Regions from separate parts of the Homo sapiens genome. Here region 1 is linked to region 2. The links come from fine-mapping of genetic effects on gene expression. A gene starts in region 2. The other region holds a variant in brackets. All regions are shown on one strand. Distances are from middle to middle.

Evidence for each region. PIP is the estimated chance that this variant, and not a neighbour inherited with it, causes the effect. A credible set is the group of variants that fine-mapping cannot tell apart.
Region 1: its variant is the best candidate, but not a certain one, in a credible set for the expression of TRIP10 in monocytes (TOPMed, PIP 0.73).

Annotation. Positions count from the first base shown.
Region 1 is chr19:6,873,264-6,876,164 of GRCh38, reverse strand. No RefSeq gene overlaps it. Among named protein-coding and RNA genes, the nearest start is that of ADGRE1, 13 kb to the left of the region's middle. The variant G/C (reference allele first, on the strand shown) is at 1,607.
Region 2 is chr19:6,738,075-6,740,975 of GRCh38, reverse strand. It overlaps TRIP10 (thyroid hormone receptor interactor 10), which reads right to left and starts at 1,296. Exons shown (of 15, transcript NM_001288962.2): 1 at 1,191-1,296. The coding sequence starts at 1,214. RefSeq lists silencers at 1,042-1,131, 1,172-1,451 and enhancers at 435-1,202, 1,652-1,781, 1,802-1,891, 1,971-2,739, 2,872-2,901.

The DNA.
Region 1 (2,901 bases), 140 kb before region 2:
GTGCAGTCAACGCTCTGCTCACTGACCTTTCCCAGGCTGGTGCACCCATCCTGGGGCTGCTGTGAGTGAGTGCTGCCTACAATAGCTCATAGCTCACAGCTTCCCCCTTCTCCTCAGCTGAGCAACTGTGCAAACCCTCAGACCCAGCCCACAGCCATAACGGATGGTCACAGAGGTGCAGAAGGCCAGCCCCATGCCCCCAGGGTGAGACCAACCTGGTGGCACCAGTCACACTCCAGGGCTCCCCATGGGATCCGGCTAAGGCTGGACTCCAGCTAAGACCACTTCCTTGCTTAGCTCATTCCCTTGCTCTGTCCTGATCTTCTCCCTCAAAAACACCTGTGCACAAGAAACCTCACAGCAAGTTCTACTTCAAACTCTCTCTCTTTTTCTTTTCTTTTTTTTGAGACAGGGACTTGCTCTGTTGCCCAGGCTGGAGTGCAACGGCTCAGTCACAGCTCACTGCAGCCTCAACTGCCTGAATTCAAGCAATCCTCCCACCTCAGCCTCCTAAATAGCTGAGACCACAAGCATACCCTACCATACCCTGCTAATTTTTTTTTTTCTCTTTTAGAGATGAGATCTTGCTTTATTGCCCAGGCTGGTCTCAAACTCCTGGGCTCAAACGATCCTCCTGCCTCAGCCTCCCAAAGTGCTGGGATTACAGGCATGTGCCACCAAACCCAGTTCTCTCTTGACACCAAGTCTGAAATGCACATTCACCCCAATCCTATACAACCTTTCTGTGTAAATATCACCTCCTCCAGGAAGCCTTCCTTGACTTCCACTTGAGAGTGAGGCGCCTCCTCCATCCTCCCCCCCCATCACCATAGTCAGTATTATCTATGCTTGCTTGAATGTCTGTTTCCCTCAAAAAACTGAGCATTTTCTCAGGGCAGGGAAAGAATTTCATTGGCTGTTGTATCCTAGAAAATAAAGAAACAAATGAGGAAAAAGAAGGGAAGAGAAATAGATGAATCTACTGAACTTTGCATCCCTACCCCGCTTCCCCAGAAGGAAGACCACAATTCTTGAGGGGGTGAGAAATGAACAGCAGCTGCCCTTTTGCAGGAGAAAAGAATCAGGGTTTCTAAGAGGGAGGTGGATGCAAAGACTTCATTGTCCTCCAAAGACTTCATGGTTTATCTATGGCTCCTAAGGCTCTTTCTTTAAAGGTAGGGGTGGTTTATCAGGCGTCCCGGAGACCCCCCTCCCCAAGCTCAATGATTCTCTAAGAAGACTCAGCATATAGTCTTGCTAATGGTTATGATTTGTTACAGTGAAAGGATACAGAGCAAAAAGTCAGAAGAGGGAGCCAGGTGTGATGGCTCATGCCTGTAATCCCAGCACTTTGGGAGGCCGAGGTGGGTAGATCACTTGAGGTCAGGAGTTTGAGACTAGCCTGACCAACATGGTGAAACCCCGTCTCTACTAAAAATACAAAAATTACTACAAGTCTGTAGTCCCAGCTACTTGGGAGGCTGAGGTAGGAGGATCGCTTGAGCCCAGGAATTTGAGGCTGCAGTGAGCCATGATTGCACCCCTGCACTCCAGCCTGAGTGACAGAGGAAGACCCCATCTCTAAAAAAAGAAAAAAATTGAGAAG[G/C]CGTTCTGACAGTCCCACTCTACCCAGATGAAAAGAAATCATTTTCTCAAAAAAATACCCACACTTGTAGGTTTATCACAGCACTATTCACAAGAGCAAAGATATGAAATCAGTCCAAGTGTCTTATCTACAGACAACTGGATAAAGAAAATGTGGTGTATGTGTACTGGGTCTGTCCCGCAGACCCTGGCCGATGGGATGAAATGAGTAGTCAGACACAGGTATGCAGTGTAAGAGCAGCCAGGTGACTGCCTGGCTCTAGCGGCCAGAGAGCAGCCCCGAGAAGCTGGAGCTGCTTGCATTTGTTCAGTGTGGGCACAATGCCAAAAACATGGAGTACACACAACCTGTAGGTAATTAACATTTATTGCTCCCCTTTCAGGGAACATCACATAGGCAGATGATCAAAAGTCAGTTCCTGGTCAACGTAAGTAAACAGGCCTGCTTAAGATAAATTCGCCCACACTCCCTTGTACCTACTCCTTGCCCTCTGCCTCAGGGTTATAGAACAGCTGCCTTCAGCTATTCCTCCCCCGGGGCTCTGCAGAACCTTCCAAACTTTCAGAAGGTTTGAGTCCTTTCCTTATAGTTTTTCCAACCACTCTGACTGAACCCCCCACATATATGAACTGTGGAATACTACTCAGCCATAAAAAAGAATGAGATCATGTCTTTGGTAACACCTGGATGGAACTGAAGGCCGTTATCTTAAATAAAACAACTCAGAAACAGAAAGTCAAATCCACATAGTCTCACTTATAAATAGGAGCTAAATAATGCGTGCACATGGACGTAGAGTGTAGAATAATAGACACTGGGGACTTGGAAGGGTGGAAGGGGAGTGAGGGATGAGAAATTACTTAGTGGGTTCAATGTACATGGCTCGGGTGATGGCTACACTAAAAGCCCAGACTTCACCACTAAGCAGTAATCCATGTACCAAAACTGGACTTGTACCTCATACATTCATGCAAATTTTTGAAAAAAGACAGAAAAGAAGCCAGACACAAAGAGGGAATAAACTAAAAGGATCTTGTATTATCCAAGATTCTCCAGAGAAACAAAACTAAGAGGAGAAACAGAGAGACAGAGAGAGGGAGACAGAGAGTCAGAAAGAGAGAGAGAGTGATTTTAAGGAACTGGCTCACGGGATTGTAGGGGTTACAAGTCCGAAATCCCTAAGGCAATCTGACAGGCTGCAGATTCAGGTAAGAGGTGATACTGCAGTCTTGGGCCCAAAGGCTTAAAGCACAGGCAAAATGTCTTTCTTCTTTTAAAATTTATTTTATTTTATT
Region 2 (2,901 bases):
GGGCCGGGGTCACGATTTTGGGACCCCACAGCCCGCCGACCAGACTCCCAGGGAGGGCCAAGGCTCTGCGCTCCTAGAAGGAGTGGCTTCCCGGCGCCGCCCCGGCGTGGCGCGGGGGGAGGCAGGAAACTGGCGGGAACCCCCTCCCCTTCCCGGGAAGGGCCGGAGAACAGCGCCCAGGCCCCAGCCACCCCGGCCGGGAGATGGAGGTCTCCGACATAGGACCGCCAAGAGGGGCGTGGAAGGGGACAGGGCCACTCCCCCAGCTCGGGCTCCCCTAATCCCCCCGGATTCCGGAAAATCCGGCCGGCCCGGCGTGAGTCAAGGCCAGAGGGGCAGGGTTCCTGGCAGACTGGGGGCCCCTGAGTGGCCAGGGGGCAGGCACCAGGTTCCCTGAATCTCCCTGCTTCCAGGGATCCCCCGATGGGTGACTCAATTTACCCCACTGACCCCACTACACATCCAAAAGAAATCGCAGAATTGGAGGAGGGGGTGGCAGTCTGGTTACCCCCGCTGCACTAAGAACTCAGGGATTCCACCGCCCCCAGCAAGGGGAGGGGTCAGAGGTCCGGCTAGGATAGGGGGAAATTTCTGGGGCTTCCAGGGCTGAGGTTATAGGCGACCAGGGGGCGGTCCCGCCCTGGGCCTGGGGTGAGCAGGGGGAAGCCAGGGAGGGGGATCAGGCCGAGCTTAGCATCCCCCTTCCCCTCCATGAGCGTCCCCAGCCCCTAGGTGTTGATTAAAGGCGAGGGAAAGGGCGGTCAGGACTTCTAGGTCCCACGTGGGTGGGGATGAGGGTGACCAGAGGGTCCCCTCCCCCCTCCTAGCCGGACAGGCGGACGACGGGCAGGGACCCAGGGGCCGTAAGATAAGCCGCCTGCCCGGCCAGGGCGCCCAAAATAGGTGACCTCTCTCAGCCGCCCCGGCCTGGCCCCAGGATTCCTTCTGCCCGCCTCATTCGCAACCCTGTGCCTCAGTTTCCCCACTCCGGTCCGGCAAAGTCGCCCTTCGCCCCTGAGCGTGCTGAGACTCCCAGATAAACTTCGAGAGAGAGCGGAGGGTGGAGGGCGGGGACCCAGGGGTCGGTGGAAGGGAAAGGCGCGGAGCCCCCTCTAAGATACATTGGGGACAAAAGGGGGGTGCCTGGACCCCAGCAAAGGGGAACTTAGAGGCGGGCCGATTGGACTTACCCACAGCTCAGTGCCCCAATCCATGCTGCTCCCGCCGCCGCCGCCGCAGCCACCACCGCACCCGGTCCCCGCCGCCCGCCGCCCGCCGCCCTCCCCGGGGAGACTCAGCCGAGGGCGGTGCGCCTGGCCCCGCCCCGCCCCGCCCGGCCCCGCCCACCCCAGACTCTTCCCCGCCCCCCTGCACGCTCTGCCACGCCCCCACCCGCGCGGAGCCCAAGCACTGCGATTCGGGGGCGGGGCCCAACGGACGCTCCGCCCCCTTTTAAAGCAACGTTGCCACTCGACGCCGCTGGACCGACCCCTTAAAGAACCCCCACCCATTTTTTCCAAATCCCCGGGGTCCCTCTCGTCCTCTCATCTTCCTTCCCCGCTCCAAACGGTTCTTCCCATCTCCTTTTCCCCTTTCCCCGCAATTATTCCTTAAAGGGCCAAGACACTAAAACCCCAAACTCAAGAAGTCCTTCCTCAACCCCATTGCAGGGGCAACCTGAGGTCACCCCGTTCTTGCGAGCCGGCCCGGCTCCAGGCGTCTAGGTTCGTCCCACTAATGGTCTGGTCCCTCCGGCCACAGGGCGGATGAGAGGGTTTCGATCCAACCCAGGACGCGCCTTCGCCAAGGCCAGGTCCATTAACTCCCGCACCGCATCCTGCCTTCCCTCCCCCAGAGTCTCCGCTGGGAAACTGAAGACAGGCCGTCCTTGGGGCGCCAGGCCCAGGCCTTTCCCCAGCTGCCTTCCAGTTCGCGCCTGCATCTGCCCATTTTCCAGTTTAACCTGGTTTCATTCTCAGTACTGCCCCTGAGATTCCGACTCCGCCCCTCCCCCAGACATCTGGGCCATCTGGGCCCTGGAGAAGGGAAGTCTGTCACCTCTCCCATAAAAGTCTGTTCACACCTTGTAAATCCCTTTGAGGTGCTGGAATGAAAGAGGAGAGGAGGCACTGGGGATTCCCACTCCCATTCTCTCCGGGCTTTGGCGCTTTCTCTGCAGCCTCAGACAAGGCTGGGCGTCTTGCAGGGGGGCCCTTGGGTATACGTTCCCCTTACACAGAGCACCCAGGCTCCCAGAACAGAGAGATACAGCTGAGCCCAGGAGGAGAGCCTTGGGAGCCCACACTGGGACTGATGTCTCTGCTGAGACCTGGCCCCACCTGCTGGTGGCTTCTGAGCTAGAAAATGTCTGATTGCAGTTGGGCAATTGAACCCAGTGAGTTCTGTGGCTAGTCTCAAATGGGGGCTCAGCCTAGCAAAGTTCTGAGTTCACCTCTGCTCAGAGACTCAAACTGGAATTGGGGTTCAGTCCAGGTCAGCACCACCGTGGGGATAGGGGATAGAGGCCAGAGGCTTAACCAGAAGGATTAGCAACCCGGTAAGGGGTCAGGTCCAATCTGGAGTCAGGGCTAGTCCAGATCGGTGGCCTAAACCAGAGATTAAGCCTCAGTGTGTGGTGTGGGGGACGAGGGGGTGTCAGAGTTTCAGGCTGAAGTTAGGACTCAACTTGCAGAGAGGGAGTTCACCTGGGGTCAGAGTTCAGCCCGGAGTCCGGTCTAGCCTGGAATCTGGGGGTGGGGCTCCAATTGCCTCACTCTGGAATAAAAGGCTTAGCCTAAGGCTGGGGTCTCAGCCTGGGGTCATAGGTCATCCTAGGGTCAAACTTTAACCTGAGGCCAGCTTTAGGCCTCTCTGTGGACCAGGAAGATTAGGAAAACAGGT